3 separate regions of the Homo sapiens genome follow, and all the other regions are linked to region 1. Evidence: fine-mapped expression QTL. A gene starts in region 1. Each other region holds a variant in brackets. All regions are shown on one strand. Distances are between the middles of the regions.

The links. PIP is the estimated chance that this variant, and not a neighbour inherited with it, causes the effect. A credible set is the group of variants that fine-mapping cannot tell apart.
Region 2: its variant is the best candidate, but not a certain one, in a credible set for the expression of EEF2 in tibial nerve (GTEx, PIP 0.51).
Region 3: its variant is the best candidate, but not a certain one, in a credible set for the expression of EEF2 in lung (TOPMed, PIP 0.59).

What each region holds. Positions count from the first base shown.
Region 1 is chr19:3,983,755-3,987,858 of GRCh38, reverse strand. EEF2 (eukaryotic translation elongation factor 2) reads left to right here and starts at 2,396. Exons shown (of 15, transcript NM_001961.4): 1 at 2,396-2,481; 2 at 3,509-3,723. The coding sequence starts at 2,479. RefSeq lists enhancers at 1-144, 2,161-2,210, 3,466-3,685, 2,979-3,830 and a silencer at 2,491-2,600.
Region 2 is chr19:4,011,424-4,015,527 of GRCh38, reverse strand. PIAS4 (protein inhibitor of activated STAT 4) reads right to left here. Exons shown (of 11, transcript NM_015897.4): 2 at 2,179-2,605. Among named protein-coding and RNA genes, the nearest start is that of PIAS4, 5.7 kb to the right of the region's middle. The variant G/TG (reference allele first, on the strand shown) is at 1,876.
Region 3 is chr19:4,018,440-4,022,543 of GRCh38, reverse strand. The region is part of intron 2 of PIAS4 (protein inhibitor of activated STAT 4); the gene reads right to left. Among named protein-coding and RNA genes, the nearest start is that of PIAS4, 13 kb to the right of the region's middle. The variant T/C (reference allele first, on the strand shown) is at 2,015.

The DNA.
Region 1 (4,104 bases):
ACCCAGCGTATATTTATTATTGTACTTATTACAGCTGACCTGGTTGTGGCTGCTTGTGGTACTCCAGGATTCTGCTCTTCATGGATGTGGGGATGACAGTGGGAGAGATCCTTCCCTGCCAACACCTGGCTCCATCCCTGCAGTTATGGGGTTGAAAATTCCCCTTTTTCCCTTAAGCTCTCCCCCTAGTTCTTTAAATTACATGATGTTAGAATTTTTCAATAAGCAACCCATGCACTTGAGAAGAAATTCAACCCCTCTTTTATTAAGTTCCGGGATACCTGTGAACAGCCCCCCCTCCTTTTTTTTTTTTTTTTTTTTTGAGACAGAGTCTTACTCTCAGTCGCACAGGCTGGAGTGCATGCAGTGCCGTGATCTCGGCTCACTGCAACCTCTGCCTCTCGGGTTCAAGCGGTTCTCCTGCCTCAGCCTCCAAAGTAGCTGGGATTTCAGGCGTTCACTACCACGCCGGGCTAATTTTTTTATTTTTAGTAAAGACGGGGTTTCTCCATATTGGGTAGGCTGGTCTCGAACTCCTGACTTCAGGTGATTTGCCTGCCTCGGCCTCCCAAAGTGCTGGGATTACAGGCGTGATCCACCGCAAGCAGCCTAACCCCTCTTTAATTTTTAAAATTTTTAAAAATTTTTTTGAGACGGAATCTCGCTCTGTCGCCAGGCTGGAGAGCAGTGGCGCGATCTCGGCTAACTGCAACCTCCGCCTCTCGCCTGACACCTCTTTTAATGAAAACCTTTCCATTACATCTCTGAAATGCTCCCACTTTGCACGGAAAAAACGGCTGCGAAGCCCCCAATAGGAAACGCAACACGTAGCAGGTGCTCAGTGCATTTAAAAATTTTGAAGAATTTTATTATTAATAATGCGAAACTGACTACCCCTCTGCTAAAAACTCATGCCCCAAATGGCGCATGCGCTTGACTTGCAACTTAACTAAACGCGTCACAGGTACAGGTGTAGGTGGTTAGGGACCCCGGGCGCTCCCATCTGCTCCCTGCCGCGCCCTCTGCCTTTCAGAGCCTCAATCCTTTCGGAAGATACTTTTCAGTTTTCCACTGGGTTAAATGGTGATAGGAAGAGCAATCATCCGTTAAATGAAACCCAAGGTTGAGACAGCGCTTTGTAAAGCAAAGTGCCCGAAGCATTCGTGAGGGGGAGGAGTGTACAGGTTTATTTTAGAGTCCAGGCTGGAATTTGCATTGCTTTTTGTGGATCCACACCTCCCCCTCTCCCAGCCCAGGAAAAGCACTGCAGTGGCTCTCCTGTTTCACAAAGTGAGTTTAAGGAAAGATGTACCGCAGGGGGTTCATTTGCACTGTGAGAACATCATTCATGCAAGAAATGCTGAGTACCTACTATGTGCTAAACAGCGGGTTGGGCTTTTCATAAGGGATAGAGTTACACAATTGAATGCCAATTCATGAGATATGAAATACATTCAACTGTTTCTTAGGGTCAGATTAGGACACAAATGCTAAACAGTCTTCCTGCGCCTCCCCCTGGAGAGGAAATGAAATAGAAAATGAAATTGTGCCAGTAAACCGCTTAGCCGGGTGCCTGGGACATGGCAAACCAGTCCTGAAATAAATAACTGTTTTATTAATAGCAATCTTAGCTAATTAAAATAGATAGCGTTTATTGAGCGTTGGGTATCAGGCACGGTCCTAATTCTTTTAGATGTCTTTAGTTCGTTTCACTCTCCCCCAAACAATAGGGTGGTATTGATCACCTCCGAGCAGGTGAAATTGAGGCACAGAGAAATCCTAGTAGCTGGTAGAAGAACACGCAGTGTGGTCAAGCTAGCAAGGTGTTTGGTCCACTGCTATATCTACAAAACCCCTAACAATGCCTGGTGTATAGATGCTCAGTATGCATTTGTGGGATCAGTGATTCCGATGCCTGCTTCTTATAAAGTTTTTATTTAGAAATAATTACAGGTAAGGAGTTGCAAAAACAGTATAGTGGTCGCGAGTGTCCTTTTTCCCTCGGCTTCTCCCAGGGGTATCGTCTTACGTAACAATGTCCAAACAGGGAAATTGACTTGGGTATAATCCACAGACTCTATTCACCTTGTAAATTGGTTTTAATAGAAGTACTGGACAACTTGTAAGCTAATATCGTTGCTATGGTTCTCGTTCTCAGCTAAAACGGCGCTCTTTACTTTGTGCACCTGAACACTGCACACCGAGGGCGACCACCGCCCCCGAGATGCCCAGCTTCTATTCTAGAGCGCCGCGCCGGCGCCGAATGGGTTAACGGGCGGGGGGACACGCCTCCGTGCGCTTGCGCGGCGTCCCTTCGCCCCGCCTTCGCAGCGCAGTCACATGACCCGCCCAACCGGCGTCCGCCTATAAAAAGCTGAGTGTTGACGTCAGCGTTCTCTTCCGCCGTCGTCGCCGCCATCCTCGGCGCGACTCGCTTCTTTCGGTTCTACCTGGGAGAATCCACCGCCATCCGCCACCATGGTGAGTAACCCTGCCTCGCTGGTGCCCCGGAGCGGCGGCGGGGCCTCCGCGGGGCCTACGCTGCCTAGCCTGGGACGCTGGGGCCCCCCGTGCCAGGAGGAGACGTAGCGGCGGCGGGGCCGGAGGACCCGGGGCTGGGGAAGCGGCCGCCGCCATGTCTGTGCGCCGCGCTGTTCACCGAGCCCTTTCTCCGTTTCCGAGGGCGCCATAACCTTGCCCAGACCTGGTTGGAGCTGGGTTGTTAGCGGGGATGGGGGTGGGGAATGATGATGTGGCAGGCGTAGTAATGGCGGGCACCGCGGTGGAAGCGGGGAGACAGGGAGGCGCCTTATGTAACCCGCGGGCCGCGAGTTTGAGATCGATTTTCTGCCGGGGGACTAGGGGCGGCAGGGAATGGCAGAACGAGCAAAGCGACACCTGAAAGGCTCCCCTTTTCCTTCCAAATACCTTCTCCTGATGCTGTTAATCGTCGACCTTAGGCACTTGTCCTTCCTATGACTCCCAGATGTACAAAGACTCTTATTGAGACACGAGGTGTAGGCTTGTGGCAGTTAGGGCCGTTCCGGCTCCCCGTTATTTCCTGGGGTGGGTGGCCTTGTCTGATCCCGTTTGCCAAGGGGTGACCTTGCATTTTATGATGAAGCTTCTTGCTCGGGGAAGTTTGGGTGGCCCGGTGACAACGTGGAGGGGGCTTTAGGAGAGGATTCATCCCTTACGTGTTTGGCCCCAAATGAGACTTTAGTATTTGTACCTGGTATCAAGGAAATCTGTTGACACTCAGTTTTATTCCTGAGCACTTTTATTTCTGGGTTGTCAATCATGAATGACACCTATTAACGGTGGTTCCTTGGAGATTGCGGGGTGGCTCTTAAGGGGTGTTAGGCTGGCAAGATTCGGTGGGCTTGGGGCACCCCAGCACCAACCCCCTCCTGGCCTTGGGCATGCTGGTTCGTTTGGACTGAACGCTCCGTGCCATGCTGTGTTCCTGGAAATCACGAGCTGGTCTGAGCCTCCTTGTCTTGCCCAGGTGAACTTCACGGTAGACCAGATCCGCGCCATCATGGACAAGAAGGCCAACATCCGCAACATGTCTGTCATCGCCCACGTGGACCATGGCAAGTCCACGCTGACAGACTCCCTGGTGTGCAAGGCGGGCATCATCGCCTCGGCCCGGGCCGGGGAGACACGCTTCACTGATACCCGGAAGGACGAGCAGGAGCGTTGCATCACCATCAAGTCAACGTGAGCTCCCTGTGCCCTCTGTACCCAGGCAGGGAGGTGCTGGCCTGGCAGCTGGAGGCCACTGGGCCAGGGTGCGCGGGGAGAGACTTGGCAACGTCTCTTTCCCCTGGTTTCTTAATTCATGGGAGAATGAGTGAGGTTCAGTCCAGCGAGACAGGATGGAGAGGCACAGGGATTCGGGGTACTGCGAGCTGGAAGGTTTTCTTGAGGAGGGGGCTTAACTCCGTGGTTCTCCCTCCCTGGGGGACTTGCCCCCACTCCTACAATATCTGGAGAGGTTTGGCTGTCACACCTGGGAGGGGAGGGTGTTCTAGTGCTTGGGACGCTGGGAAGCTCCTGTGTTGCACTGGATGATGTTCATTCCATGTCAGTTTCTGGCCC
Region 2 (4,104 bases), 28 kb before region 1:
CAGGAAAGGAGGTTCACCTGGCGGCCTGAGATGGAGAGAGAGCCAGTGGGAGAGAGAGGCAGGGTGGGGATGGCCTCTTTGTTCTGAGCCGCCAGCACAGGCACACTGGTGTAGACAGGGGAGCAGGCTCTCCCGGAGATCAGGTGACCGGGGTCCCTGGTGGCTCAGGGCACAGCGATGTATTGTGGGACGGAGCTACTGGTCCCCGTGCAGGAAGGAAGCTGGTCAGCCCCGTCCCCCGCCCTGGACCAAGCCTGCCCTGCCGCTCCCAGGAAAGCCCAGCCTCCCTGTGATGCAGGTCCTTCCCAAGGCCCAACCTTCAGAGACAGCCAGCTCTGCCCAAGAACCTGGCAGGGGGAACAGCTTCCCTCATGAGAGAGCAAAGGCTGGGAAAGTCAGTCCGATGGAACTCAGGCCAAGACCCTGAGTCCCCCAGGACAGGTGCCACTGGGCCAACCTGCTCCCCAGGAGGCTGCTGCTAGACACCTCCTGCAAGAGAAAAAAGGTGGAGGCGGAGCCTCACTTGGAAGGCGGAGCCTCAGGCTGGAGGGAGGAGCCTCGGCTGCCGCAGGAACCACCGACAGCACCTTCCTCCCTCCTCCACTTCCTCCATCCTCACCTGGAAGCACAGCCCCTCCAGCCTAACCTCACTAAGTCCCAGGGCTGCAGATGGGAGGGGAAAAGCAGCCAGTTCCCCTTCCCCCTACCCCCATCAACGCTGCCTCCCTGGGCAGGGGAGCGGGGGCCAGCTGGCACCCAATGGACTGAAGCGTGCCAGAGAAGGGCCCTCAGGCCACAGCAGGGGCCAGGCAGGTTGCTGGGTCAGCAGGGTGGGAGGGGGCATGCACAGGGTTCTGAACCTCGTGGCCTTGGTCCTGTTCCCTGCTGCGTGCCCACGCCTGGTGCCCATCACGCACCCACCCAGCAGGCGCTCCGATGTTTACTGTGCGAAGGAAAGAGTGGGGGCAGGGGAGGGGAGGCAGGAAGAAGAGACGGAGAGACCTCCAGGCACACAGAGGACTTGGTGAAATCTGAGCGCCTCAAGGCACAGGTCCGCAAAGGCCCAGGACGTTCCGCTCCCTATCTGGGAGTCCCAGAGGCTGCACACTCTCTCTGCCCTGGGGGCTGGGGCTGCGGAGGCCTCCCTGGCCCTGAGCTCAGGGCTATGGCTGAGGCAGAGACTGGGCTCAATGCCCACCTGCAGCCTGAATGGCCACGGCTGCTGGGGAGGCACCAGGGGCCTGTCCACACTGCTGTGGGCTATGAGGTCCTGACACACAGTTCCTGCTCAGTCAGTGCTTGCAGACAAAGACACGAGAGAGAGAAGCGTGGAGCCCAGCACCTCTCCTCCGCCTGGGATCGCCCTGAACCCCCAGCACGCCCGGTGCACACAGCCTGGCAGTGACCTGAGCCCACTGACCAAGGACACTCCTGCAGGCTGCCAGCGAGGAACCAGAGCCCGGGGGAAGGATGCCACTGGCCAGCCCCCTTTCCAAGGGGAATAAGCAGGGAAACCAGGCTCCCAGGTGGCCCTGGTCACCCCTGGCCCTGGCAGTCACAGCCTGGTGTGGTCCCTGCATGCGCCACAGAGTCTGTGTGAGCAACGGACTCTGTGGGGGAGATGGCGAGGCGTGTCCGAGGTTGGGTTATAAAAAGGGCTCCAGCTCCCAGCTTGGAGGTGCACACTCGCTACCCTAGGGTGAGGGAGCCACCAGGCTGAGGACGCCCAGGCAATCCGTGCAGGAGTCCGCACCATGAGGACCTGGGGACTGTGGCCAAGAGCTGGCGAGGAGCTGAGGCCTGCCAGCCACCACACAAGGATGTGCCTGCTCCAGCCCTGGTCGAGCCTCCAGATGAGGTGGCTCCAGCCTGACT[G/TG]AGCCTCATGAGAGCCCCCAAGCCCCAATGCCCCGCAACACAGCTCACAGGTTCCTGAGAGCTAACAGACGCCCCCTGCTTCCAGTGGCTCCATTTCGGGGTAACTTGTAACACAGCAAGGGGTGACCAATATCAAAGATGGTCCCTTTGCTTCCGAGGAAGGACACCCCTGGCCACTGTGGCTCCCCGCCCTGGCTGCGCCACAGAGAACATCACTCGAAGTCGGCTGTGTGGCTGGGCTGGGCTGGGCGACGGGGCCTAGGTGAAGCCTCCAGTCGCAGCCTCCCCAGGGTGACCACTCACCTAATTCGGTGGGCTTCAGCAGCTCATCCAGCATATTAAAGAACGGCAGCTTCACCAGGCGGACTTCTGGCTTGAGGGTCTTGGCGGGCAACCGTCCCAGTCCGTTTAAGTACTTTCCGTAGAGCACGGGGTAGTCAATATTGGGGCCTGCCAGCGGAGTCCTGGGCACAGCGCCGGCCCGGTCGTAGGTGGAGTGCATGGTCAGGGGGTCCAGGGGCCGGTGCGGCTGTGGGGCAGGCTCCGAGTTCTTCTTGGCGTAGCGGGTCTCGTACAGCTCCTTGATCTTCTTGAACAGCTCAGGGCTACAGTCAAACTGCACCAGCTGGAGGGCCCTGGTGACGAGCTCGTGCTTCAGTCCACTCTTACTCCGGCCCACGAAACCCAGGAGCATCTGAAGGTCGGAGACTCGAAAACTCATCACCATGTTCTGAGGAGGAGCAAGCACACACACACTCAGAGGACACAGCTGCGAGGCAGGGGACTCCATGGAGGCCAGGCCCCGATGTGGGGGCCGTGAAAGACACCCACTCGCCAGGAAGCGCCAGCCTTGGCTGGGGCTGGTGGAGTGCCCTGCCCCTACGGTGCCCCCTCCCAGCAAAGCCCTGCCCCCTCCCTCCTCCTCATCAAACTTTCCCCAGCATCGCCAACGCAGCAAAAGCGCCTCTGACTAGGCCCCCCCTTCTATTTTAGGTTCTCTTTCCCTGTCTTCAGCCTGAAAGCATCCCCAGGGCAGGAACTGACAATTGTGCTTTACTTGTAAACAGCCTCTGCCAGTGCCTTACCGGCAAACACCAAATGCCTCTCTGACCCTCAGTCTCTACGTCGGGAGGATAATGACATAAAGCACTGGCTGGGCGGGCGCTCAACCCATGTCAGCCACAGATATGTTTTCCCTTCGGTCTCGCCAACGGTAGCCACAGTTTACTTAGTACTAATCACCTGCCGGGAACCAAGCCGGTCATGTGATTATATATTTAACTCTGATCCTTAAAACACCCCTGCTAGGCTGGTGTGTGAGCTCTGTCACAAATGAGGAACTGTCGGCTCAGAGGTGGCAGCGCCAAGATTCGAACCCAGGCCTGGCTCTGAAGCCAGGGGCGGTTCTTGCTGCCACACTACCCTCTGGATGTCAACACAGGGCTGGGCCTGTGGGGGCCTCCGAAACATCTGCTGATCATCCCAGGCAGGGTTTCTCCTCCTTGGCCCTGTGGACACTGGGGCCATCCTGGGCTCTGTGTGGTGCTAAATACCCACAGCTCACGACAACCAAACACACCTCCACACCCCACACACCTCCACACCCCACACACCTCCACACCCCACACACCTCCACACCCCACACACCTCCACACCCCACACACCTCCACACCCCACACACCTCCACACCCCACACACCTCCACACCCCACACACCTCCACACCCCACACACCTCCACACCCCACACACCTCCACACCCCCCACACCTCCACACCCCACAGCTCCACACCAAACACACCTCCACACCCCACACACCTCCACACCCCACACACCTCCACACCCCACACACCTCCACACCCCACACACCTCCACACCCCACACACCTCCACACCCCACACACCTCCACACCCCACACACCTCCACACCCCACACACCTCCACACCCCACACACCTCCACACCCCACACACCTCCACACCCCCCACACCTCCACACCAAACACACCTCCACACCAAACACACCTCCACACGTTGCCCTGAGTCCCTGGGGGACCGGTCCAAGGGGAAGATAGCAGCCACAGGGGCTGTTGCAGGACCTGGGTCAAAGCGACAAATGAGGCTTGGCAGGACCTGGCCCTCATCGCCTGGCCGGGCCTCTCCAGCGAAATAAAAACCAAACAGCAGAGCCCAGCTGACCCTGGTGTTTGAGGTGGGGTAGACTGGCAGTGGCCT
Region 3 (4,104 bases), 35 kb before region 1:
ATACAAAAAATTAGCTGGGTGTAGTGGCAGGCGCCTGCAGTCCCAGCTACTAGGGAGGCTGAGGCAGGAGAATGGCGCGAACCTGGGAGGCGGAGCTTGCAGGGAGGCGAAGCTTGCAGTGAGCCAAGATCGTGCCACTGCACTCCAGCCTGGGCTACAGAGCGAGACTCTGTCTCAAAAAAAACCACCAAAAACAACAACAACAACAAAAAAAACAAAACTCTAGCTGAACAACAAAAAGACAGTGAGAACACAAACTACCAATATCAGAAATGAAAGAACAATAGTACAGACCCTACAGCTTTTCGGTTCAATAGGGGAATAAAAGGTGAAACTTTATGCCAATGAATCTGACAACTTAGTGACATGGACAAATCCTCCCAAAGATGCAAATTACCAAAACGGGTACCAAAAGATACAGGAAGTTTGAAAAGCTCTTTACCTGTTAAGGAAGTTGGATCCATAATTAAAACCTTTTCTGAAAACTGCAGGTCCAGATTGGGCATGGTGGCTCATGCCTGTAATCCCAGCACTTTGGGGGCTGAGGTGGGTGGATTGCTTGAGCCCAGGAGTTTGAGGCCAGCCTGGGCAACAAAGTGAGACCTTGTCTCTACAAAAAATTTTTAAATTAGCCAGGTGTGGAGGTGCACACCACCTGTAGTCCCAGCTACTTTGGAGGCTGAGGCAGGAGGATTGCTTGAACCCAGGAAGTGGAGGCTGCAGTGAGCCATGATCGTACCACTGCACTCCAGCCTGGGCAACAGAATCAGACCCCATCTCAAAAAAAAAAAAAAAAAAAAAGAAAAAGAAAATGCAGGTCCATATCGGTGAATTCTATAAAACATTTTGGAAAGAAACCACATAAACCGTACATAAACTCTTTCAAAAAACAGAGAAGGAAAGCATACTTCTTATTTTACAAGGCCAGCATAACTCTGATACCAAAACCTCACAACTCAGCATCAAGGAAGGAAAATTCCCGATGAATACCCCTCATGAACACAGATGTAAAATCCTCCACAAAATATCAGCCAGTATTTCAGGCCCCTGCGATTTGTGTAGAAATCCAAGACCGGTTTAAATCCTCTCTACACACCCAGGCCAGGTGCGGTGGCTCATGCCTGGAATCCCAGCACTGTGGAGGCGAGGCAGGTGGATCACTTGAGGTCAGGAGTTCAAGACCAGCCTGGACAATATGGTAACCCCATCTCTACTAAAAATACAAAAATTAGCCAGGCATGGTGACACACGCCTCTAATCCCAGCTACTCGGGAGGCTGAGGAGAATCGCTTAAACCCAGAAGGCGGAGGTTGCAGTGAGCCGAGATTGTGTAACTGCACTCCAGCCTGGGTGACAGAGTGAGGCTCTGTATCAATAATATAAAATGAGGTAAAATAAAATAAAATACCTCTCTACACACCCACTAGCATGGCTAAAATGAAAGGACTGGCAACTCTAAGAGATGGCAAAGGTGTAGAGCAATCAGAACTCTCTGCTGGTGGGGTTATAAGACAGTACCATCACTCTGGGAAACTACCCTTATAAAGGTAAGCACAGACCTACCCTATCACCCAGGAATCAGGAATCCCACTCCAAAGTATTTTCCCTCAATACATGGAAACATGCGTTCAAAGAAACTTGCAGGCTGGGCACAGCGGCTCATGCCTGTAACCCCAACCCTTCAGGAGGCCAAGGTGGGAGGATCGCTGTAGCACAGGAGTTGGAGCCCAGCCCAGGCAACACAGTGAGACCTTGTCTCTAAAAAAAGTTTTTAAATAAGCCTGAGCCAGGTGTGCTGGTGTGCAGCTGTCATTCCCGCTACTCAGGAGGCTGAGGTGAGAGGACTGCTTGGGCTCAGAAGTTCGAGACCAGCCTGGGCAACATAGCAAGACTGTGTCTACATTAAAAAATATATTTAGATACAAAGCAAAAACGCTGAGCAGCGTGCACGTCCTGCTATCACTTGTGTAATGAAAATGGAGAGAAGGCATCTGAGTAAACACCTATTTGTTTA[T/C]AAGTGTAAAAAATATCGGAAGAGCGTGGGGGAGCGAGAATCTGGCCACAATGGCAGCCTTGCAGTGGCCGGGAGACGAGACAACGAGATGACAGGCAAGCCCTTTAGAACAGGGATGGCGAACTGCCCCTGGTAAAGGCTGGAGCTCATCAGCTTCGCAGGCTATGTCTGTGCTCCCAGGTGCTCCCAGGACGGCAGTGCACACAGTGGTGTGGCCTGCACCCACGACAGGGCCTTTACAAGAACCGGAGCCATGGGATCGCACCTCAACTACCAGCACTGTCTTGGAACTTTCTCAATTAAAACCCACGAGAAGCCGGGTGCAGTGGCTCACGCCTGTAATCCCAGCACTTTGGGAGGCCGAGGCAGTCGGATCATGAGGTCAGGAGATAGAGACCATCCTGGCTAACATGGTGAAACCCCGTCTCTACTAAAAATACAAAAAATTAGCCGGGCGTGGTGGCAGGCGCCTGTGGTCCCAGCTACTCGGGAGGCTGAGGCAGGAGAATGGCGTGAACCTGGGAGGCGGAGCTTGCAGTGAGCTGAGATCCTGCCGCTGCACTCCAGCCCGGGCGACAGCGAGACTCCATTTCAAAAAAAAAAAAAAGAAAAAAGCCAGACTCCCTGGGCTCGGCTCCCAGCCCTGCCAGGGCCTCTGTGGCCTCAGCCTGCACGTCCCGCCCATGTTGACCTGTTTCTTCGGGGACCGGTGCCGGGTCTGTGGCTGGCCCTCAGGAAGAGGGGGCTGCCACAGCCGGTTCCCGTTTATATGCTCAGGGCACAGCCAGTCTCTGCAGAGGTGATGGGCTGTGGAGTCCCGGCTGGGCCCTTGAGGAAGGCCGCCTAATTGGGAGGGGGGCACACAGGCCACCTGCAGACGCGCCCAGGTCTGCCCTGAGTGCCAGGGGAGCAATGGTTCAGGGGCAGGGAGGCTGCACGGGAGCCTACACCTGAGCTGGGCCTTGAGCTTCCAGGCTGGGTCGGAGGTGAAAACACAGACACCCCACCCCTCAGTGTCTCAGAAGGAGGTAGGGGAGAAGGGTGGGTCCCCAGCAGGCAGCAAGGGAGCCACCCAGCTGGCCAGGGATTGTTGCCAGCCCATGCCTGGGGCAGACAGGGCCCAGTCATTGAAGAACAAGACTCTGGGGTCCCTGCCCTGGGAGGGCTCCTCCCTCTGGGGGAGACCGGGCTGTGCTTCTCTGCTGGGGGCCTGGGAGGTGCCCTGTGCTCTCACTGCTGTGCCACTGGCCCCGGGCCGCTGACGGTTCCCCCCAAACACCCGGCCCCCCTATGCTGGGGAAGGGGCTGTGGGGTCTCCCTCAAACCTGCCCTTCTGCCCTCGGGGTCAGCTGTTTGGGGCCAGAAACCCAGGTGGCATCCATGAAGCCCCCGTCTCTGCTGTCCTGCAAACATCCACTCCCTCAGCCAGTCCTGTCAGCTCTGTTTTCAAATCCCGCCCGGTGCAGACGACTGCCCCCAGCTCTGCCGGTCTCAGCAGCCAGAGCCCGCCCCCTGGGATGGCTCCGCAGGAGACCCCTGACCCTCAGTACCCCTGCTCAGGGCCACACACACCCCGGCGCACACACGGCCACCACCCTGGCCTCCTGCTTGGGCCCCACCAGCCATGCTGCATCAGGGCCTCCGCACCTGCCATTCCCTCTTCTGGAACCTTCCTCCCCCGACCAGCCTCATGGCCCTATATTTGTCTTTGTACAAATGTCACCAGAAGGAAAGCCTTCGCTGAGCACCCCATTTAAAAACCGCACCCCCCGCCACCTCACTTTTCTCCAAACCTTCTCCTCCTAAGGAGCGACTCAGTTTCCCTACATCACTCTGCTGCTCCTTCTTGTTGGGCCACTGAAGCATGAAGTTCCCCAAGGGGGAGATGGTTTCGTGGGCTGCCCAGCATCCAAGGCCACGGGACCAAGGCAAGGGCACCACTGAACCAGATGCACCTTTGGGGCCAGGTGCAAGATCAGGTGACCACGGGGGCCCTGCCAGGCAGAGCCGGTTCTGGGGTGAGGTGCTCAGCCAGGCCCTCCGGCCCGGGCACGAAAAGCAGCCCCTGGGCCCGATCCGAGAGCCCAACA